2 linked regions of the Homo sapiens genome follow. The protein of the gene in region 1 interacts with the protein of each later gene in a biochemical or structural test. Each region holds a gene or a part of one and is shown in the gene's direction. Other genes may lie near its edges.

Evidence for each region.
Region 2: the proteins of PMPCB (region 1) and FXN form a complex in vitro, tested with the Homo sapiens proteins (one study listed by BioGRID).

Annotation. Positions count from the first base shown.
Region 1 is NC_000007.14:103,300,435-103,307,486, forward strand, and holds part of PMPCB (mitochondrial-processing peptidase subunit beta isoform 1 precursor), read left to right. Parts: intron 1-3,407; coding exon 3,408-3,606; intron 3,607-3,976; coding exon 3,977-4,056; intron 4,057-7,052. UniProt on the Homo sapiens protein: Catalytic subunit of the essential mitochondrial processing protease (MPP), which cleaves the mitochondrial sequence off newly imported precursors proteins. Preferentially, cleaves after an arginine at position P2.
Region 2 is NC_000009.12:69,061,655-69,079,112, forward strand, and holds the end of FXN (frataxin, mitochondrial isoform 1 preproprotein), read left to right. Parts: intron 1-3,283; coding exon 3,284-3,381; coding exon of another isoform or gene 3,382-3,389; intron 3,390-10,957; coding exon 10,958-11,108; 3' UTR 11,109-17,422; downstream 17,423-17,458.

The DNA of each region.
Region 1 (7,052 bases):
TGGGTGAGGGTACAGCTGATCTTATTTTTTTTCTAAATATGACAAATAGTAAATTATGGATGATGGTTTTTCTTAATATGTAGCAATAAAATAGAGATTATTTGGTGGGAATAAAATATTTTGTCAGGACAGCAGTTTGTTAGTTACCATGTTTGTAGACTGTTTTGACTCTCTTAAAAGTTATTACACAAAACATTTCCCAGTGGAAGAATTAACAACAAAATTTAGCAGTTTTAGAGCTAATTGGTAAACTCATTATTTTTGTTTAGAGAGATAGTCTCGCTCTGTCACCTAGGCTGGAGTGCAGTGGTGTGATCTCGGCTCGCTGCAACCTCTGCCTCCTGGGTTCAAGTGATTCTCCTGCCTCAGCCTCCTGAGTAGCTGGGATTATAGGCTCCTGCCACCATAGCTGGCTAGTTTTTATATTTTTAGTAGAGATGGGTTCTACCATGTTGGCCAGGCTGGACTTAAACTCCTGACCTCAAGTGACCCACCTGCCTCGGCCTCCCAAAGTGCTGGGATTATAGGCGTGAGCCACTGTGCACGGCCATTAGTGAAATTTTTAACCTTTAAGGTCCTTCTGTAGTTGTAGTTACTACTTTGCAATTTTGGATTCCTAATAGACTTTCATTAATAATGTTTAAATGGCACTTAACACAAGTACTTTTGTGTATATATTATCCATTTGATGTGCATAGGTGTTTCCACCTTGCAGTTGTGGAAATTGAAGCTCAGACTCTGACTTGCCCAGGATTGCATAGCTATCAGGTGGCTTACTGTGGACTCAAGTGCGTGTCTTCTTACCAGATTCATTTGCTTTGTCAAAACAATAAAATAAGAAACCTATCACTTGTAAATAACTAAAATACTTAATATGATACCCTAACTTTTGCATTAAAACAAAAATGACAGCAACGATGGAGGGTATGTTGGTTTGAATAACAAAACCAATAGAGACAGTTTTTGTCCCAGGACTAATTAGGGACCAAGAACATATGGCTAGGCCAAGGTTCTTTAAAGAGTTGTTCATTCCAGCCTAGTTCCTTCCTTTATTTACACAGAACAACAGGGAAGGCAAAAAGGAGAAACAGAAAAAGGAAGGATGAAATTAAACGACTTTTTTCCCCCTTTTCTCCTGGCATCTAGCTGGGAACGACAGAGCTTCTGCTAGTGGGAGTGGAAAAACAGGGGCTTTCCCTGAGGAATGCAAAATGGAAGTGCTCTCTGAAGCAGCTCCAACTTTGGGGATTTACTTGGGGTTTTTCACCCTTCACCCTGGGTGTGAAGCCTGGTATATGAAGTAATAATTAGATGTTTAGACTAATGGTCTCCAGGTTTTTATGATCACTTATTCTTTTTTTTTAATTTTTATTTTTTATTATTATACTTTAAGTTCTAGGGTACATGTGTACAACGTGCAGGTTTGTTACATATGTATTCATGTGCCGTGTTGGTGTGCTGCACCCGTTAACTCGTCATTTACATTAGGTATATCTCCTAACGCTATCCCTCCCTGCTCCCACCACCCCACGACAGGCTCCGGTGTGTGATGTTCCCACCTCGTGTCCAAGTGTTCTCATTGTTCAATTCCCACCTATAAGTGAGAACATGCGGTGTTTGGTTTTTTGTCCTTGTGATAGTTTGCTCAGAATGATGGTTTCCAGCTTCATCCATGTCCCTACAAAGGACATGAACTCATCCTTTTTTATGGATGCATAGTATTCCATGGTGTATATGTGCCACATTTTCTTAATCCAGTCTATCATTGATGGACATTTGGGTTGGTTCCAAGTCTTTGCTATTGTGAATAGTGCTGCAGTAAACATACGTGTGCATGATGATCACTTACTCTTATTGGTAAGAAAGTTGATCATATATCCTTAATGTATGTATACTTGTAAGTTAAATACATGTGCTACTATACTAACATATATTAAATACACATTTAAAAAAAAGATTCAGATTAAAACAGACTGGGAAATAGGAGCCCCCCTCCCTGCCTTTGGAAACTACCAGGGTAGACCACCAATCCCACATAAAGGAGGATTTTCACACAGGAATTCTTGTCCTTCCATTTGTCTATGGGCTCTTTCTCACCCATTTTACTGGACTCTGTTCTCTTATCTGGACAGATGGGTTTTATTTGGTTTTACAGATAATTTTTTCCTTTTGGTCATGATCTCAGCCACAGCTTACTATAATAGTTTGTTCTGTCATGTTCTTAGTATTTGAACATAATCAGTTCTGAGACAGTGCCCCTTAAAGTGAACTTAATTAAAACAAGCAACAACAGTTTGTAGTAGAGTAAAAAATGAAACCTAAACCAGACACGGTAGTACATGCCTTTAGTCTTGGCTACTTGGAGGAAGCTGAGGCAGGAGGATTGTTTGAGCCCAGGAATTTTGAGTCCAGTCTGGGCAGCATAATGAGACCTTGTCTCTTAGGGGAAAAAAAAGAAACTTAAGATTGTAAGTTTATTTTATAACATTAATCGTATTAATGAAATTTAGATTTATGATTGCAACTATGTACTAATTCTTCAAGAATGAAGCACAGTTTTTTTTTTGGAGAGGTATGCGCTTTTTCTGATAAAATTGCTTAATGGCCTAATATAACATGTTCCACTTCACTTTTGGCTTTTTGCAAATTAGGGTTTGAGAACACACAATTCTGTGATTCATTTGGGGCATATTTTAGATTGTAAGGATTCTTTTCTCTGTTGCCCAGGCGAGAGTGCAGTGGTGCAATCGCAGCTCACTGCAATCTTTGCCTCCCGAGCTCCACCCATCCTCCCATCTCAGCCTCCCGAGTAGCAGGGACTACGGGCACATGCCACCACACGAAGCTAATTTTTGTATTTTTTGTAGAGACAGGATTTTGGCATGTTCCCCAGGTTGGTCTGGAACTCCTGGGCTGAAGCCCATATTAGCCTCCCAAAGTGCTGGGATTATATAGGTGTGAGCCACGGTGCCTGACCAGTTCTTTGCTTCTTAACATAGCACTGTCATTGCTGTGGGAACTTGCATAGTAAATACTTGGGTGATACAAACCCTCTGTACATTGCTAGCTAGGTATTTTCAGACTAATATATATAACTTTGTAATTTTCATATAGAACAATCTATATTAATATGCAAATTTCCATAGCATTTTTTAAGTAGGTAGAGTCATTACAAGGTGATGGCAAATTTATACTTTTTCCCCAAGGAAAAAATCTTTTGTACTATAGGGGTTTATATGTTAAATTTTAATTTTGTCCTGTTAAGTATATCTGATGTTTTTCTCCTAGGCTAATCATTTAGTATTGAGTGATGGGTCAGTGTCATGATTTCTGATTTTGGTTTAATAGATTTTAATAGTGAAAGTTAAGATTGCTGGCACGTTTTCTTATATTTTATTTTCAATTAGCTGTAGAAATTCTTGCTGATATAATACAAAACAGCACATTGGGAGAAGCAGAGATTGAACGTGAGCGTGGAGTAATCCTTAGAGAGATGCAGGAAGTTGAAACCAATTTACAAGAAGTTGTTTTTGATTATCTTCATGCCACAGCTTATCAAAATACTGCACTTGGACGGACAATTTTGGGACCAACTGAAAATATCAAGTAGGTATAACAGAATTTCTTGGTGTATAAGGGAATTTATGAATGTTGAAAATAAACATTTACAAATTTTCAAAAAGTATGTTTCAGAAAGTAATTTTCCCCCTGGTAATCTAAGTGAAACTGTAGTTAGCTACATTTTAGTCCCACCTAGCTCCCAAGCACGTGAGTTCATAGGTACTTCGGGAATAAACCAGTAATGGTGTATTTTTTCTTTGATGTAAAAAAGGTGAAGTTCTTTGATGTGTTGCCTGTATCCTATTTCTGACTGCATTTTAGGATACAGTTATGGTCCAATTTGATTTCAGGTATATTATGTGAAGATCTGTTTTTTTTTTGGTTTCCTTTAAAAATTGTTTTACTTCATTTACAGATCTATAAGTCGTAAGGACTTAGTGGATTATATAACCACACATTATAAGGGGCCAAGAATAGTGCTTGCTGCTGCTGGAGGTTAGTCAATTTAAATTTCTACAAATGTTTTAAACACAGTTGTTGGAGTGGTATGCTTATTAGTTTGATCCTGTTGGGAGATACCCTAAGAATTTTCATTTACATAGCAAATAACTGATAGTGTGTAAGGGGAATGTGGAGCACTGGAATCAGAATTTCCCTCTATTTTTTTTAAAGTAGGTTTCATTTAGGCCAGGCATGGTGACTCACACCTGTAATCCCAGCACTTTGGGAGGCCGAGGTGGGCGGATCACGAGGTCAGGAGTTCAAGACCAGCCTGACTAATATGGTGAAACCCCATGTCTACTAAAAATACAAAGTAGCTGGGCGTGGTGACATGCGCCTGTAGTCCCAGCTACTCGGGAGGCTGAGGTAGGAGAATTGCTTGAACCCAGGAGGCGGAGGTTACAGTGAGCCAAGATTGCACCACTGCACTCCAGCGTGGGCGACAGAGTGAGACTGTCTCAAAAAAAAAAAAGAAAAGTAGGTTTTATTTATAGAAAGACTTAATGAACTGTTCAATACATAAGCGTACATAGTAGAACGTGCAAGAAAAGGGCAAAGGAGTGAACTGGGAGAGAGTCGGAAGATGGTGTTCTGTACTTTGAGAATTTTTTGAGATTTTAAATTATTTCTTGAGAACCAACTTCGTCCTTGTTCAAGCATGGAACGGGTATGTTCATTCTTTGATTTGTTCAATCATTCATTTAATAGATCTAATTTTTGGGAAGGAGAAGCACATAGGGAGCCATAAGAATGTTGAATGGGAATCCAAACATGCAGGTGACTTCAGAAGGTTTCCTTGAGGTCATGTTTGAAGCCAGTGAATGAAAAAAAAAATTGACAACAGATATTGCCAGATTTCCTGGCAGTCTGAATCTAGACAGCAGTACATTTTAATTGGTTTCCAGTTTTTTATTTTTTTCTTTTTAAAATACATTTATAGAAATAGAGATGGATTCTTAACTATGTTGCCCAGGCTGGTTTCAATCTCCTGAGCTCAAGTTATCCTTCCACCTTGACCTCCCAAAACTTGGGGATTACAGGCGTGACCCACCGCACCTGGTCTCCAGTTTTCATTTCTTTGTATTTTTTAATATTAGAGCAAAGCGAAGTGTTCTTTCGTGTTGTAAATTTTTCTCTTTTTAGAGATCATAATTTAAAAATTCTAGTTGCTCTGGATTGATTTCTGAGCTAAGTACCTGGCGGGTAATGGAGAAGATGAAAACATTAAATATCAAACATGTTATTCATTGTAGCTACCTTCATTGTACATGGCAGGAAGTGCACTCTGAAATTCTCTTGAGTAACATTGTTTCTAAATTGGCTCTTGCAGACTTGGGCTTAAGTGTTTGAAACTGCCTTGGAAATGGGACAAGAGACTTGTTAGATGGGTCCTCAACAACCAAGCTTTCTGGGACCTCTCTGCCATTGTTGGTGGCATGTGGACAAAATGAGTTTTACTTTGGTTCATGGGTTCATTTTGACATAGCTAAAATTGAGATATCTTTAGTTTAATGGCTTATAGATTAATTAGTATTCATTTTAAATACTACATAAGTGATGTGCCTTATAAATGATTGCATCTTAAATTCAATGAAATAGGCCAGTTTTAAGTTTCTGCTGACCTCTGAATTATGTCTTGGCTACCATTTATCTCTTCTAGGCTAATCATCAGGATGTATAGCTTTTATTTGCCAAATAGTTTTTTGTATCCTAGCTTCATTTATTATAAAATTATAATTTAACATTTTAATTGTAAATTAAGTTAAAGAATCTTAATTTGGGTCTCAAGTAAGGGATATAGAGTCTAAGTAATTCCTGAGTTTTTGCATTTGGATACCTATTGATGTATTCAGAAATTTAGATGACACTATTTTGTTCCTGAGTTCTTTTTTTTTTTTTTTTTGAGATGGAGTTTTGCTCTTATTGCCCAGGCTGGAGTACAATGGCATCATCTTGGCTCACCGCAAACTCCGCCTTCCGGATTCAACTGATTGTCTTGCCTTAGCCTCCCGAGTAGCTGGGATTACAGGCATTTGCCATCACACCTGACTAATTTTGTATTTTTAGTAGGGATGGGGTTTCTCCATGTTGATCAGGCTGGTCTACCTCTACCTCTGACCTCAGGTGATCCGCCTGCCTCAGCCTCCGAAAGTGTTGGGATTACAGGCGTGAGCCACCACACCAGGCCCTGTTCCTGAGTTCTGATAGCAGAGCATGGAGAATAAAGTTTATCTGTGTATCCAGCTTTCTTTTATTTATTTAATTTTATTTATTTTAGAGACAGAGTCTTGCTCTGTCACCCAAGTTGGAGTGCAGTGGTGTGATCTCAGCTCACTGCAAACTCCACCTCCTAGATTCAAGCAGTTCTCCTGCCTCAGCCTCCTGAATAGCTGGGATTATTACAGGCGCCTGCTACCATGCCCAGCTAATTTTTGTATTTTTAGTAGAGACAGGGTTTTACCATATTGGCCAGGCTGGTCTTGAACTCCTGATCTCAAGTGACCTGCCCACCTTGACTTCCCAAAGTGCCGGGATTACAGGTGTGAGCCATGGCACCCGGCTTTTAAAATTTATTTTATTGAGACAGAGTCTTGCTATGTTGTCCAGGCTGGTCTTGAACTCCTGAACTCAAATGATCCTCCCACCTCAGCCTCCTAAAGAACTGGGATTATAGGCGTGAGCCACCATGCCCAGCTCCAGCTTTTTAAAAATTAGATAGAGCCCATATTTGTATTTTCCACTAAAAAATTTTTTTTTTGAAAATTGGCATTTTTTGCTAGTTTGGATCCCAGAGGTTTTTATAATTTAATAGAAAATGATTTTGTAAAACGTGGAGTTTTCAAGTTGTCTTATTCTTAGCTGTGAATCCATTGGTCTGTTGATGAAAACTGTCATTTGCTCTACAAAATGAGAAAGCTGTGCAACCTCAAGCTTTGCAACACCAAGGAAATAGGTGTGCTATGTGAGCTTACTCTTAAATAATGGCTTTT
Region 2 (17,458 bases), on another chromosome or scaffold:
GCTATCCCTCCCCCCTTCCCCCTCCCTCCACCCCACAACAGTCCCCAGAGTGTGATGTTCCCCTTCCTGTGACCATGTGTTCTCATTGTTCAGTTCCCACCTATGAGTGAGAATATGCAGTGTTTGATTTTTTGTTCTTGCGATAGTTTACTGAGAATGATGATTTCCAGTTTCATCCATGTCCCTACAAAGGACATGAACTCATCATTTTTTATTGCTGCATAGTATTCCATGGTGTATATGTGCCACATTTTCTTAATCCAGTCTATCATTGTTGGATGAGCTCTTTATCTCATGGAAAAATAATTTATAAAACTCTGTATGAGAGGAGTGGGAAATAGTATTAACGGGTGCGGGGTTTCTTTTTGGGACAATGGAAATAGCTGGAATTAGATAGTGGTGATGTTTGCACACTTTGTGAAATACTAAAAACTCCTGAATTATACAGTTTTAAGAAACTTTTATTTATTTGTTTTTGAGAGAAGTTCTCTGTGTCACCCAGGCTGAAGTGTGGTGGCGTGATCACCGGTTATTGCAGCCTCAATCTCTGAGGCTCAAGCGATTCTCCCACCTCAGCCTACCAAGTAGATGTGACTATAGGTGCGCACCACCACACCCAGTGAATTTGTAATTTTTTGTAAAAACAAGGTTTTACCATGTTGCCCAGTCTGGTCTTGAACTCCTGGGCCCAAGCGATCCTCCCTCCTTGGGCTCCCGAAGTGCCAGGATACAAGCATGAGTCACCACATGCAGCCTCAGTTTTAAGAAACTTTTAAATAAATGAAATATAGTCATACCAAAACAGTAAAAATGGGTTTCAGGAAAAAAAATGTTTTTTTAAACAAACTTACGTATTGTATAATCCCAGCCCTTTTAAAAAATGCTTTCAAAAACTGGCAGTCAACTCATAAAAGGACAAATACTTATGATTCCACTGATGAAGTAGTCAAAAGTAGTCAAAAATCACAGAAACACCACCATAAATGTATAATTTTTATTTTCAATTAAAAAAACATCTTTTTTTTAGTCAAAATCATAGAAATAGAAAGTAGACAGGTGGTTACTAAGGGCTATGGGATGGGGAAATTAGTGTCTAATGGGCATAGAGTTTCAGTGTTACAAGGTGAAAAGTTCTAGAGTTATGCTGCCCAGCAGTGTGAATATACTTTATTGTTCTGTACACTTAACATGGTTAATATGGTAAATTTAGCGTTATGTGCTTTTTACTATAGTAAAATTAAAAAAAAAAAAAATGGGGCCGAGTGCAGTAGCTCACACCTGTAACATAATCCCAGCACTTTGGGAGGCCGAGGTAGGAGGATCACTTGAGGCCAGAAGTTTGAAACCAGCCTGGTCAATATAGCGAGACCTCATCTCTACAAAAGAAAAATGTTAAAATTAGACAGGTGTGGTGTCTGTAGTCCCAGCTCTCTGGAGGCAGGGACTGAGTCAGAGGATCACTTGAGCATAGGGGTTTGAGGCTGCAGTGAGCCATGATCCTGCCACTGCTGCAGCCTGAGCAACAGAGCAAGACCCTGTTGTAAAAACAAACAAACAAAAACTGGCAGCTGATACCTGAGAGTGAATATCTTTTATCGCTGGTTAATGGGATTGAGAGAATGCTTCATCTTATAGAAAGAACAGTGTCTTTGGACCCACAGAGACCTGGATTTAAGATTAGCTCTGCCAATTACTGAGTACTCTTTACTATGAACCTCTGTTTTCCTCATCTGTGAAACTGGAATAATGAATCCTACCGCCAACAATTGTAGTCAAGTTGGAAACAATTTACACAAAGTGCCAAACACCAAGCCTGGCACAGTAGGAACCGAGTAAATAGTGGTTAATATTTTTATCAGTGTCTGCATTGCTGACGTCTCCATCATTTCTATACATTTGTTTTTGAATCAGAAAAAGATGTTATTTTAAAAAAATAACCCAGTAGTGCCCCTTGTCCCATTCCTATCAGTTATATTATTATTGTTACTACCCTCTGGAATTTCAATAACTCTTTGTTTTTTGGGTTTTTTGTTTTGTTTTGCTTTGCTTTTGAGACAGGATCTCTGTCGCCCAGTCTGGTGTGTAGTGGTGTGATCTCAGCTCACTGCAGCCTCAACCTCCTGGGCTCAGGTGATCCTCCCACTTCAGCCTCCCAAGTAGCTGGGACCACAGGCGCATGCCACCACACTTGGCTAATTTTTGCATTTTTAGTAGAGACAGGGTTTTGCCATATTGCCTAGGCCGGTCTGGAACTTCTGGGCTCAAGCCATCTGCCTGCCTCGGCCTCCCAAAGTGCTGGAATTTCAGGCATGAGCCATGCCTGGCCTAAATAGCTCTCTGTGTTTGCAAAAGTGTGTTATAAGAATCATTCAGAGCCTCTCGATTGGATGGAGGCTCTAGAATGCACAGAAAAAGGCTGCCACCGTGTATCTCTGCAAGTCATGCACAAGATGGGGAACAGCAGGCTTCCCCCTGCTTACCAGTTCAAATACAGAGAACTAGCCCTGTAGCTGTTTCTTTCATATCTCACCCATTCTAAAGAGACCACAGGCCTTAGAAGTAAAGGACTCTTTTGTTGAAAGAGTGTTTTCAAATTTAAATGAGCATTTATTGGTCAAAGATGCACCAACTAGTCTTTTGAAGAATTCAAGGCTCTTTAGAGAAAAATAAAGCCTTGGAGGAGTATCTGAGAAGCTTGTTAGATGCGTGGGAAGAGTCTGGAAATAAAAAACTTCATCTGGAGTTTCTGCCTTCTACCAACAGAGCTGAAGCTAATGCTCTCCTAAGACAAGCAAAGCAGATGGTTTGCATACTTCCTTACCTTCCTTTTACTTCCTCTGTAATAGACTTGTCATGTCTGATGTTTGAGTTGACGTGGTACTCTAATAGAGTTAGAGTCTGCATTTTTTTTATGTCCTCTAGTATGTTCTGGTTGATGGTTGAGGGCAACAAACCAGCAGTCCCAGATGCCAGCACCAAGACCTGAGACAGGTCACTTAACTCTCCGAGCTTCACCACCATTCTCACCTTGCAGACCTCACAGGGAACAGGGAAAGCTCTATGAGATACAACATCATTATGATTAATCCTATTCTGATTCTGAAAGCAAAGCTCTTCCTACACAAACTCCTATTTCTAAATACTAAAAGACATTTCTTTATGGTGTATTTTGTGTACTTGTAGAAATGGAAAGTGTTGAGATAAAACATGAAGCAATGATGACAAAGTGCTAACTTTTTCTTGTTTTAATTTCTTTATGCTTTTTTTCCACCTAATCCCCTAGAGTGGTGTCTTAACTGTCAAACTGGGTGGAGATCTAGGAACCTATGTGATCAACAAGCAGACGCCAAACAAGCAAATCTGGCTATCTTCTCCATCCAGGTATGTAGGTATGTTCAGAAGTCAACATATGTAATTCTTAAAGACTTCCGAAATGTGACATTGTGGACCATTTAAGAAATGTCGGCTGAGCACAGTGGCTGACACCTGTAATCCCAACACTTTGAGAGGCTGAGGTAGGAGGATCACTTGAGGACAGGAGTTCAGAACCATCCTGGGCAACATAGTGAGTCCCTGTCTCTGTAAAGAAAATAAAAATAAAGTCACAGCTGGGTGCAGGCTTACACCTGTAATCCCAGCACTTTGGGAGGCCAAGGCCTGTGGATCACTTGAGCTCAGGAGTTTGAGACCAGCCTGGGCAATGTCACAAAGCCCCACCTCTACTAAAAATATAAAAATTAGCCAGGTGTGGTGGCACACGCCTATAGTCCCAACTACTTGGAAGGCTGAGGTTGAGCCTCAGCCTGAGCCCAGGAGGTGGAGGTTGCAGTGAGCCAAGATCGCGCCACTGCACTCCAGCCTGGGCAACAGGGCCAGACCCTGTCCCAAAAAAAAAAAAAAAGTCATCGTCTTATGTTAGCATCCTTGTAAGTGAGCCTTTCCTGATATTTTGCAGCCTGTCTCATTCTCAGTAGAAAAGTTTACTCTAGTTACATAACTTCTCCCTGCTGACAATTTGGATACTGTAAGCAGGCATCAGGATATTAAGATCTGAAGTGAGTAGCTTATAACTTTTCCAAATCCAGCCTAGACAGTTTTCCTCTATTAAATTATTGCCCTGACTTTAAAAGAAGCTACTTTTGACCTTGTAGCGTTTGAACAAGTTGCACTTTGTCTTCAAAGCAAGTTAAAGTTTGACCTCTACTTGTTTTGAGCCTCTCAGGTAAAGGGTTATTTGAATTCCCTTTGCAGGTTGGGGTTGTGTACCCTGTGGAGGTGGTAGAGTGTTATATATTGCTGCTCCAGGGCATTTAATCCCTCCTGCCTTTTCCATTGATGTGCTTTCAATCTAGAGGAATAAAAGATTGTGTTGGAGACACAATGTGGCCTGCATAGCATCTGAAAGCCTGAGAACATGCAGGGAGAGACATCCCTCATCCCTCAGCAGCCTGGCTGCTGTTGAAGTGGTTGTAAGAAAGTAAAAGAGAAATGCCCACAAAACGTTCTCAGATCCAGTCATTCATTAGCACTTCCAAAGAGAGCATGTTGACTGTGAATTGGGAAAGGGCCAGATAAAACTAGCATAGAATTCTTTGAAAGACTAACGGTATTTGCATTTTTTAAAAATTATAACCTTACTCTACCCCCTAACATTGACATCATTTTTAGGTAATTAATATTTTCCCATTTATTATTCTGTGATCTCTAATGCTTTGTTCAGAATAAATAGTGTGTTTCCTTTCCCCACACTTTCATCCAAGAAGTGTGCTAGAGTTCAACAAAAACAGCACTAGAAATCACTGTCATTCTAGGAAGGCCCTAATTCACAGATTGTATTGGTTTTTAGACCCAGTTAGTGTGCTGGAGGTTGGAGGATTTTAACCTCTGTGGGCCAACTAGCCTCTGTGGCCTCAGTCATTCTTCCTGACCCTGGCTGTGCTTGAGCCTGTGTGTTCTTATCCTTCATCTCCGGGGGAACGAAGTGGATCAGCTCGGTCCAGCGATCACTTTTGGGGATCAGTGGCTTTGTAGATATCGGGCAGGCACTTACCCCAAAAGAACTTTCCCCATATCTGAAGACTGAAAACGTCCATATCGTATTTGGACACACTGCCCAGCAATACGCTCTAGCTGTGTTCAGAAGCATGGGAATTTGGAAAGATCTGCTGAGCATGCCGTTTACTGTCACAGATACTATCTTCCTCAAAAAAAAAAAATATATATATATATATGGGGGACGGGGCAGGTTGAGACTGGGTGAGACTGAAGAGGTGCCTTGGCCAGAGCAGGCCACACCCAGAGACCACAGGCTCCCCGGTCCACCTCAGGCCCCTCCCCTTCCTGCGCCGTTTCCGGCAGATCCAGAGTGGCCACCGCCGGATGGGAGTCGGGGGAAGGGAGGCAGAGAAGCGGGCCCTGAGGACAAGCTCTCAGTGCTTCTGTGGGAAGTGGCGGCAAGACGGCAGCTCCCAGCGGGGGATGGAGGCCGAGTCAGTCTGCTGGTCACTGGAGGCCAGGATGCTGCCTAACACAGCCGTCCCGCTCCGGGCCTCACCACCAGGGCGGCTCTCCCCACTCCCGGCCTGCTGCCCACACAGACTGCGGGGTTCCGGGGGAGCAGGACCCAGGCCGTTCTGCGCCTGTCTTCTTGGAAGGAGCAGGCCGGAGCGCGGGAGCGCCGTGTAGCTGTACCTGCGAAGGCACAGGATTCCGCGGGAAGATCCCGCAGTTTCGGGCCGTCGTCATTGTTTTTATACCTGTGGCAAATGGCATGACCAGACACACGGTTATGTCTGGAGAAACCCCTGTAGAGGAGCAGGAGGTTGTGGACATGCTGTGGCCCGGACAGTGGCTGCCGAGCAGTTGGAGCCTGCACCCGCCCAACTTGGCTAAAGAAGTCCCCATACTCTCTGTGGAAAAGATTTCCAGAAGCTGTTGTGTCAATATCAAAGCCTCAAAACAACAACAACAACAACAAAAACATGAAATTATCAACAATAAAGATCATCCTTGAGTCTGCTTTGAAAAGTAGGGTGAAATTCTGCAGAGGCATTCAACTGGCAAGATACCACCCTCATAGCCAGATCTGCAGGTCTCAGCCATCATGCCAGGGAAAATGCTCCATTCACCACTCCTCAGCTTCTGCTTCTGGTTTCAGAGGTCTCTGTATTGGAGGGGCTTTAAAGCAAGAAGGGTCTTTACCCACTTACTCTTATTCACAGATGTGAATATGCAGGTCCAGTGGGGAAAGTGACATGTCCTAAGTCAGAATAGAGTCAACAAGAAAACAGGGCCCAAAATGACTTAGCCTCTAGTGTATAATGGGCATTGATGAGCTACTGGAAATACAGAGATGAAGAAAACACAGTCCCATCTTCAAGGAGCTCAATCTAGCAAGGGAGACAGACTCTTTGTAGGTGGGACCGGGCTTCCCTGCAGCAGAAGGAAGCTTGAAATTGGTAACGAGCCTCAGAAGGGACAGAGGCAGGCCACCATGCTACCCTGAGAGGATCGCATGTGGACACGGGGCTATGACCTGGCCCTGCTTTGACCCACTAGCTGTGCTGTAGGGCCAGGTGGAGCCTGGAGTGGCCTGTGCTAAGGGGCTACTATGAGCTCTTTCCACTCCCCCAAGGCATTGCATAAATAATGTCACTTTCTGTTTGCACAGCAAAATCAGGGACACAATTTTCTAGAACATGGGGTGCCTCCCCTCCCCCCAGCCCAACAGAAGTTCTACAATGACTGATGGGCCCTTGTTTTTGTTTGAGACGGAACACCCCACAGGGTTCCGAGTGGTGATTTGTGGCCCACAGGCCACTGGCAAGTGGAGGCAGAGCTGCAGAGCCCTCGGGAGCCACAGAGGGCCTGCTGGCCGCCACGACATGCCAACTCAGCTGCTGCTGGCCCTCCTGTGGGCGGCAGTGCTAGTGATGTGCAGAATCTTAGGACTAGTGCCAAGGAACCTATAAATACCCTGGGTGACCCAGGCGTGCACTGCTGTGGTGGCCTTCACAGTCAGAAGATGACAAGCTGAGAAGGGGAGAATCGGCCCAAGGTGAGATCCACAGAAAGGCCAGGGCCAAGATGCGGCCAGCACCTCAGGCTGGTGGTGGTCTTACGTTGACCATGCCAGAGGCCAGTCCTTGATTGCTCCAAACCCTCTGTTCGAGGGTTCCAAATGAAATGAGCAGGTCCTCGTGTCAGGACCTAGGTTAGTTTCTGAAAAAGCATGAAAAGCAGGCCTCCTGAACTTCCCCGAGTGACTGATGCAAAGTGCGTCCTGCATGCTTCACAGCACCATGGAGAGGATCTTCAGGGGCAAACTGCAGACTATCTGAATGACGGCACTGACCATCAGCAAACCGCAGAGCTGCCTGACCAAGAAATTGCGAGACAGAAGCAATGCTTGCAGGCGAAGAAGAAGGGGCCAGACACAGTGGCTCACGCCTGTAATCCCAGCACTTTGGGAGGCCAAGGCAGGCGGATCACTTGAGGTCAGGAGTTTGAGACCAGCCTGGGCAACATAGTGAAACCCTGTCTCTACTAAAAATACAAAAAATTCGCCAGGCATGGTGGCAGGCACCTGTAATCCCAGCTGCTTGGGAGACTGAGACAGGAGAATTGCTTGAACCCAGGAGGCGAAGGTTGTAACGAACTGAAATCGTGCCACAGCACTCCATCCTGGGCGACAGAGTGAGACTGTCTCAAAAAAAGGAGGAGAAGAAGGAAAGGCCAAGGCAGGAATGAAACAGGCCATGAATGTTGGAGTGAAGCAACTGGCCTCCTCGTGCTAAGCGGCTACTGTGAGTTCTTTCCACTCCCCCAAGACATTGCATAAATAATGTCACTTTCTGACACTCACCCCGCTGAATGTCCTGCCTCTGCTCAAGGGTGGTATGATGGGGACTTGGCAGTGGAGGGGAACAGGGAAACCAGACATGGTGGTCTCCCCGCTTCCTGGCTACAAGTCCCTCTGAAGAAATCCAAAGGAGTAAAGAGCTTGGAGAGTAGGCCTCTGTAGGGTGCAAGGGCACAGCTGGAGACGGAGCTCCTGAGGCTGCAGCTGATGCTGCCCGCTCTGCCTGAACTGCACCAAAAACGTGATGAGGCCATAGCGGGAGTCCACGGAGGAGGATGCCTACTGCCCGACCTCTAGCAGAGACTAAGCAAGGTGCATGAAAACTTGAACCACATGTGTCACACCCATGACCACTACATGAAGATGGCCCAAAACCTGGCCCAGGAATTGAAGAAAGACTCTTCCAATTTGCTGTAAGAAAATGGCCCAGGGGGCAAGCACGGTAGCTCACACCTGTAATCCTAGCACTTTGGGAAGCTGACGCAGGCAGATGGCTTGAGCTCAGGAGTTCCAGACCAGCCTGGGCAACATGGTGAAACCCCGTCTCTACCAAAAATACAAAAATTAGCCGGGTGTGGTGATGCATGCCTGTGGTCCCAGCTACTCAGGAGGCTGAGGTGGAAGGATTGCCTGAGTCTGTGGGGCAGAGGTTGCAGTGAGCTGAGATCACACCACTGCACTCCAGCCTGGGTGACACAGTGAGACCCCATCTCAAAAAAAAAAAAAAGAAAGAAAACGGCCCAGGAAGGCTGGAGGGCCGCCGTGTCCATTGAGAGAGTGCTCCAGGCACTCCAAAAAGAAAATGACCACAATGGGAAGAAACCAGCTGACCATGAGACCAAGTTCCAACCTTTTACAAGTGGCCTGTGGCTCCTGGCGCCCCGCCCACAGCTGACAGGGGCTCAGAAGTGCTAGGGGGACCATGGGCCACCAGGGCCACCAGGAGGGAGGCAGGTAACGATGCGAGGGCTTGGATGCAGAACACCAGCTGGTTTGATTCTGTTTTCCCTGTACCTGGGTCCTGAATGCCCAGAGGCTCAGGGAAACACCAGCCAGTGCTGCTGCCTTTAAAGCACTTTTGACTGATCTCTTGTTAATTTAGCAACTGTTATTGGTTGATGCTGCAGTTGCTCTTATTGAAGTTTGATTGATAGCATTAGGATGGTAAGGCACTATTTTTCAAATAAAGGTTGTTTAATATAAAAAAAATTTTGTTTTTTTTTCTCTCAGCCTTTCACATTGGTTCAAAATATCTTTCATCTGGCTGCATTTCTGATTTTTGTTTTGTTTTTTTTTTCTTAATTTTATTTATTTTTAATTAAAAATAATTTTTTTTGTCAACATGGGGTCTCACTTTGTTGCCTAGGTTGGTCTGAAACTCGTGGCTTCAAGCAATCCTCCCACATCAGCCTCCCAAAGTGCTGGGGTTATGGGTGTGAGCCACTGCAGCAGCCTGTTTTTTTTGTTTGTTTGTTTTTTTTAATTTGACAAGTTTTCAGGTCCTGTGAAATCAGCAGTCTTACCTCCCACCTTGCGCACCCTGAGGAGGTTGCAGAATAAAGGAGAATTCTAGGGACACGTGGGCATCAGTGCCTGTGCTCAGAGCACCTCAGGCAGTGTGGAGGGGTCTAGAGGTTACTCAGGCTCTGCCTGGCAACCCGATAGCAGTATCAGAGTATAGGGCCAAGGGGACGGTCCTTGGGCTTGGTGTGGTTTATTAGTCCTTTTCCTGTGACCCTGATGGTTTGGTTCACTCATTTTTATCTCCATACTGGGAACAGGTTCAAGCCCCAGCATTTGGTTGATAATGCAGGAATCCTTGATACTTTTATTGCCCAAGCTTCCCTTCCTGGTGACCTCATCCTAGCCTCAGTCTTTGGAAAAGCCCTCCTTGAGTGCTCAGGCAGACTCAGGTGCCCTTTCTTCTGGGCTCCCATGCACTCTGTTCTTACCTCCATCAGGGTGCCACATGCACTAGTGTTATCTGCTGCCGTGGCCAATCATCCATGAGGCCATGAGGAAGTGGAATGTACATCTGGTATAAGAAGACATGGCAGAAGCCAGCCTCCGATCTGTCCACACGAATACAGCATTCCCAAAGCAACGTGCATGTGCCATTATTCACTGGATGAGCTTGAGGTGGATGAACTAGCCCACCAGGCTCTCAATGTCATGAATTTAACACTGAATTAAGAAAAATATGTTTTAAAAATAATAGTTTAGGTGATTGCTGGGGTGCTAGGAGAGGAAGGAATGGGGAATAACTGTTTAATGGGTATAGTTGGCCTTGTGTATCTGTGGGTTCCACATCTGATTCAACCAACCGTGGATCAAAATATTTGAAAATAAAAAACAAAACAAAAATGATACAAATAAAAACCAATATAACAACTATTAACAGCATTTACATTGTACTAGGCATTATAAGTAATCTGGAGATGACTTAAAGCATACAGAAGGATGTGCCTAGGTTAGATGCATGTATCGTACCATTTCATATCAGGGACTTGAGTACCCACGGATTTTGGTATCTGCAGATCCTGGAACCCCTTCCCTATGGATACCAAGGAACAACAGCACTGGGTCTCCTTTTGGGGTGATGCAGATGTTTTGAAGCTAGGCAGAGGTAGTGGTTGCACAACATTGTAAATGTACTAAATGCCACCAAATTATTCATTTTTAAATGGTTAATGTGTTATGTGAATTTCACCTTAACAACTAATAATATTATAGGTAAGGCACAAGTTACATCTGTAGCACAAAAATGGCCCTAATTTTTAAAACACTGCTCCAGCATAGCAGGTATCACATGTGAGGTAGCAAAAGCTGGAGATCAAAGTGTGATACCTGGAGACTTATCAGTAAGGGTCAAATGTTTTTTCAGGTTTTGAGAATCATTCTTGGAATTGTTCCAGAAGATATATCGTATAACTCTTCTTAGATGCTAAGATAAGAAGGCAGATATACACTAGCTCATTTTGTGTTATTTTCTAGAGCTTTACTCCAGTCAATTTCTTGGGGGCAGCATTTGTGGAATCAGTGGTTCATCTGAAGGGCTGTGCTGTGGAATTACTATGCATTTGTTTTGTCTTCCAGTGGACCTAAGCGTTATGACTGGACTGGGAAAAACTGGGTGTACTCCCACGACGGCGTGTCCCTCCATGAGCTGCTGGCCGCAGAGCTCACTAAAGCCTTAAAAACCAAACTGGACTTGTCTTCCTTGGCCTATTCCGGAAAAGATGCTTGATGCCCAGCCCCGTTTTAAGGACATTAAAAGCTATCAGGCCAAGACCCCAGCTTCATTATGCAGCTGAGGTCTGTTTTTTGTTGTTGTTGTTGTTTATTTTTTTTATTCCTGCTTTTGAGGACAGTTGGGCTATGTGTCACAGCTCTGTAGAAAGAATGTGTTGCCTCCTACCTTGCCCCCAAGTTCTGATTTTTAATTTCTATGGAAGATTTTTTGGATTGTCGGATTTCCTCCCTCACATGATACCCCTTATCTTTTATAATGTCTTATGCCTATACCTGAATATAACAACCTTTAAAAAAGCAAAATAATAAGAAGGAAAAATTCCAGGAGGGAAAATGAATTGTCTTCACTCTTCATTCTTTGAAGGATTTACTGCAAGAAGTACATGAAGAGCAGCTGGTCAACCTGCTCACTGTTCTATCTCCAAATGAGACACATTAAAGGGTAGCCTACAAATGTTTTCAGGCTTCTTTCAAAGTGTAAGCACTTCTGAGCTCTTTAGCATTGAAGTGTCGAAAGCAACTCACACGGGAAGATCATTTCTTATTTGTGCTCTGTGACTGCCAAGGTGTGGCCTGCACTGGGTTGTCCAGGGAGACCTAGTGCTGTTTCTCCCACATATTCACATACGTGTCTGTGTGTATATATATTTTTTCAATTTAAAGGTTAGTATGGAATCAGCTGCTACAAGAATGCAAAAAATCTTCCAAAGACAAGAAAAGAGGAAAAAAAGCCGTTTTCATGAGCTGAGTGATGTAGCGTAACAAACAAAATCATGGAGCTGAGGAGGTGCCTTGTAAACATGAAGGGGCAGATAAAGGAAGGAGATACTCATGTTGATAAAGAGAGCCCTGGTCCTAGACATAGTTCAGCCACAAAGTAGTTGTCCCTTTGTGGACAAGTTTCCCAAATTCCCTGGACCTCTGCTTCCCCATCTGTTAAATGAGAGAATAGAGTATGGTTGATTCCCAGCATTCAGTGGTCCTGTCAAGCAACCTAACAGGCTAGTTCTAATTCCCTATTGGGTAGATGAGGGGATGACAAAGAACAGTTTTTAAGCTATATAGGAAACATTGTTATTGGTGTTGCCCTATCGTGATTTCAGTTGAATTCATGTGAAAATAATAGCCATCCTTGGCCTGGCGCGGTGGCTCACACCTGTAATCCCAGCACTTTTGGAGGCCAAGGTGGGTGGATCACCTGAGGTCAGGAGTTCAAGACCAGCCTGGCCAACATGATGAAACCCCGTCTCTACTAAAAATACAAAAAATTAGCCGGGCATGATGGCAGGTGCCTGTAATCCCAGCTACTTGGGAGGCTGAAGCGGAAGAATCGCTTGAACCCAGAGGTGGAGGTTGCAGTGAGCCGAGATCGTGCCATTGCACTGTAACCTGGGTGACTGAGCAAAACTCTGTCTCAAAATAATAATAACAATATAATAATAATAATAGCCATCCTTTATTGTACCCTTACTGGGTTAATCGTATTATACCACATTACCTCATTTTAATTTTTACTGACCTGCACTTTATACAAAGCAACAAGCCTCCAGGACATTAAAATTCATGCAAAGTTATGCTCATGTTATATTATTTTCTTACTTAAAGAAGGATTTATTAGTGGCTGGGCATGGTGGCGTGCACCTGTAATCCCAGGTACTCAGGAGGCTGAGACGGGAGAATTGCTTGACCCCAGGCGGAGGAGGTTACAGTGAGTCGAGATCGTACCTGAGCGACAGAGCGAGACTCCGTCTCAAAAAAAAAAAAAAGGAGGGTTTATTAATGAGAAGTTTGTATTAATATGTAGCAAAGGCTTTTCCAATGGGTGAATAAAAACACATTCCATTAAGTCAAGCTGGGAGCAGTGGCATATACCTATAGTCCCAGCTGCACAGGAGGCTGAGACAGGAGGATTGCTTGAAGCCAGGAATTGGAGATCAGCCTGGGCAACACAGCAAGATCCTATCTCTTAAAAAAAGAAAAAAAAACCTATTAATAATAAAACAGTATAAACAAAAGCTAAATAGGTAAAATATTTTTTCTGAAATAAAATTATTTTTTGAGTCTGATGGAAATGTTTAAGTGCAGTAGGCCAGTGCCAGTGAGAAAATAAATAACATCATACATGTTTGTATGTGTTTGCATCTTGCTTCTACTGAAAGTTTCAGTGCACCCCACTTACTTAGAACTCGGTGACATGATGTACTCCTTTATCTGGGACACAGCACAAAAGAGGTATGCAGTGGGGCTGCTCTGACATGAAAGTGGAAGTTAAGGAATCTGGGCTCTTATGGGGTCCTTGTGGGCCAGCCCTTCAGGCCTATTTTACTTTCATTTTACATATAGCTCTAATTGGTTTGATTATCTCGTTCCCAAGGCAGTGGGAGATCCCCATTTAAGGAAAGAAAAGGGGCCTGGCACAGTGGCTCATGCCTGTAATCCCAGCACTTTGGGAGGCTGAGGCAAGTGTATCACCTGAGGTCAGGAGTTCAAGACCAGCCTGGCCAACATGGCAAAATCCCGTCTCTACTAAAAATATTAAAAAATTGGCTGGGCGTGGTGGTTCGTGCCTATAATTTCAGCTACTCAGGAGGCTGAGGCAGGAGAATCGCTGTAACCTGGGGGGTGGAGGTTGCAGTGAGACGAGATCATGCCACTTCACTCCAGCCTGGCCAACAGAGCCATACTCCGTCTCAAATAAATAAATAAATAAATAAAGGGACTTCAAACACATGAACAGCAGCCAGGGGAAGAATCAAAATCATATTCTGTCAAGCAAACTGGAAAAGTACCACTGTGTGTACCAATAGCCTCCCCACCACAGACCCTGGGAGCATCGCCTCATTTATGGTGTGGTCCAGTCATCCATGTGAAGGATGAGTTTCCAGGAAAAGGTTATTAAATATTCACTGTAACATACTGGAGGAGGTGAGGAATTGCATAATACAATCTTAGAAAACTTTTTTTTCCCCTTTCTATTTTTTGAGACAGGATCTCACTTTGGCACTCAGGCTGGAGGACAGTGGTACAATCAAAGCTCATGGCAGCCTCGACCTCCCTGGGCTTGGGCAATCCTCCCACAGGTGTGCACCTCCATAGCTGGCTAATTTGTGTATTTTTTGTAGAGATGGGGTTTCACCATGTTGCCCAGGCTGGTCTCTAACACTTAGGCTCAAGTGATCCACCTGCCTCGTCCTCCCAAGATGCTGGGATTACAGGTGTGTGCCACAGGTGTTCATCAGAAAGCTTTTTCTATTATTTTTACCTTCTTGAGTGGGTAGAACCTCAGCCACATAGAAAATAAAATGTTCTGGCATGACTTATTTAGCTCTCTGGAATTACAAAGAAGGAATGAGGTGTGTAAAAGAGAACCTGGGTTTTTGAATCACAAATTTAGAATTTAATCGAAACTCTGCCTCTTACTTGTTTGTAGACACTGACAGTGGCCTCATGTTTTTTTTTTTTTTAATCTATAAAATGGAGATATCTAACATGTTGAGCCTGGGCCCACAGGCAAAGCACAATCCTGATGTGAGAAGTACTCAGTTCATGACAACTGTTGTTCTCACATGCATAGCATAATTTCATATTCACATTGGAGGACTTCTCCCAAAATATGGATGACGTTCCCTACTCAACCTTGAACTTAATCAAAATACTCAGTTTACTTAACTTCGTATTAGATTCTGATTCCCTGGAACCATTTATCGTGTGCCTTACCATGCTTATATTTTACTTGATCTTTTGCATACCTTCTAAAACTATTTTAGCCAATTTAAAATTTGACAGTTTGCATTAAATTATAGGTTTACAATATGCTTTATCCAGCTATACCTGCCCCAAATTCTGACAGATGCTTTTGCCACCTCTAAAGGAAGACCCATGTTCATAGTGATGGAGTTTGTGTGGACTAACCATGCAAGGTTGCCAAGGAAAAATCGCTTTACGCTTCCAAGGTACACACTAAGATGAAAGTAATTTTAGTCCGTGTCCAGTTGGATTCTTGGCACATAGTTATCTTCTGCTAGAACAAACTAAAACAGCTACATGCCAGCAAGGGAGAAAGGGGAAGGAGGGGCAAAGTTTTGAAATTTCATGTAAATTTATGCTGTTCAAAACGACGAGTTCATGACTTTGTGTATAGAGTAAGAAATGCCTTTTCTTTTTTGAGACAGAGTCTTGCTCTGTCACCCAGGCTGGAGTGCAGTGGCACGATCTGGGCTCACTACAACCTCCGCCTCCTGGGTTCAAGCAATTCTCTGCCTCAGCCTCCCGAGTAGCTGGGATTACAGGTGCCTGCCACCACACCCGGCTAATTTTTGTATTTTTAGTAGAGACGGGGTTTCACCATCATGGCCAGGCTGGTCTTGAACTCCTGACCTAGTAATCCACCTGCCTCCGCCTCCCAAAGTGCTGGGATTACAGGCGTGAGCCACTGCACCCAGCCAGAAATGCCTTCTAATCTTTGGTTTATCTTAATTAGCCAGGACACTTGGAGTGCATCCCGAAGTACCTGATCAGTGGCCCCTTTGGAATGTGTAAAACTCAGCTCACTTATATCCCTGCATCCGCTACAGAGACAGAATCCAAGCTCATATGTTCCATCTTCTCTGGCTGTATAGTTTAAGGAATGGAAGGCACCAGAACAGATTTATTGAAATGTTTATTAGCTGAAGATTTATTTAGACAGTTGAGGAAAACATCAGCACCCAGCAGTAAAATTGGCTCTCAAAGATTTTCTTCTCCTGTGGAAAGTCAGACCTCTGAGGCCCCATCCAGGTAGAAGTACTAGTGCAAGAAGGGCCTCTGCTGTCCACTTGTGTTTCTGTGATCTGTGGGAACATTGTTAACGCCACATCTTGACCTCAAATTGTTTAGCTCCTGGCCAGACACGGTGGCTCACACCTGTAATCCCAGCACTTTGAGAGGCTGAGGCAGGTGGATCACCTGAGGTTAGGAGTTCGAGGCCAGCCTGGTCAACATGGTAAAACCCCGCCTCTACTAAAAATACAAAAATTAGCTGGCCGTAGTGGCGCACGCCTGTTATCCCAGCTACTCGGGAGGCTGAGGCAGGAGAATTGCTTGAACCTGGGTGGTGGAGGTTGCAGTGAGCCGAGATTACACCACTGCACTCCAGCCTGGGTGACAAGAGGGAAACTCCATTAAAAAAATGTAATTCCCGTGTCTGCCATCTTAAGTGTAAAGGTGGCTAAATTATATAGAAAAATAAGACAATATCATTTCCCAATTACATTCCTTTCCTACCGCACTCTATGATGCTAGCTGAGATTTTTCCAAAAGAAAATGGCTTAAATAAAACCCTAAGAGAAAGAAAAACTTTAAATCCCTCCAAAGCTCAAAAGTAATAGAAACAGATGAGTTTGGAGTCAGGATTTCTCTGTAAGATTGCCTAGGCTGTGTACTGCACATCTCCAGGTGCCACTGTTGACAGAGATTATAACTACAATGTGAAGTGAATGGTGCCACTGACAGTTATGCAAACCGTCCAGAGCATAGCCACCTGATCCTGCTGGGATTCCTCTTGCCAGTCCATCAGCAGTTCCCCTTGAAAGTTTCACCAAACATCCCTTAAATCTGCCCTCTCCTGCCCGTCCCCAGTGGAGGTCCTCATCATTTTTCACCTGCATTTTTGCAGGAGCTTTCTTATATCCACCTTCCTCCTTTTCTCTCAGCCCATCATCTAGCTACACAGTCTCCAGGGTAAGCTTTCAGAAAGGCAATCTCTTGTCTGTAAAACCTAAGCAGGACCAAGGCCAAGTTTCTTAGCCTGAAAAATGTGCTTTTCTGACTGAACTGTTCAGGCACTGACTCTACATATAATTATGCTTTTCTACCCCCTCACACTCAACACTTTGACTCCAGCAATCCCAAATCCCCAGATCCCTAAGTGTGCTGTGCTATTTTCACGTGGCTCTCAGACTTGGCCAGTGCTGTTTCCATTTTGGTCTTTATTCCCCACATCTCTGCCTGGGGGGTAGATTCTACCCTGAAAAATGTTCTTGGCACAGCCTTGCAAACTCCTCCTCCACTCAGCCTCTGCCTGGATGCCCTTGATTGTTCCATGTCCTCAGCATACCATGTTTGTCTTTCCCAGCACTGACCTACCATGTGTCACCCCTGCTTGGCTGTACCTTCCATGAGGCTAGGACTATGTGTCTCCTTTGTTGACTGCTGTTGCCCTAGCATCTTGCACAGTTCCTTGCACACAATTAGAGCTCTATAAATGTCAAATAAATGTGTTATAATTATATGTTTAAGATAGTTGTTCAAATAAACTCTAAATAACCCCAACTCCAAGAGTGTTAGCAAGAAATATAAATTTTACAG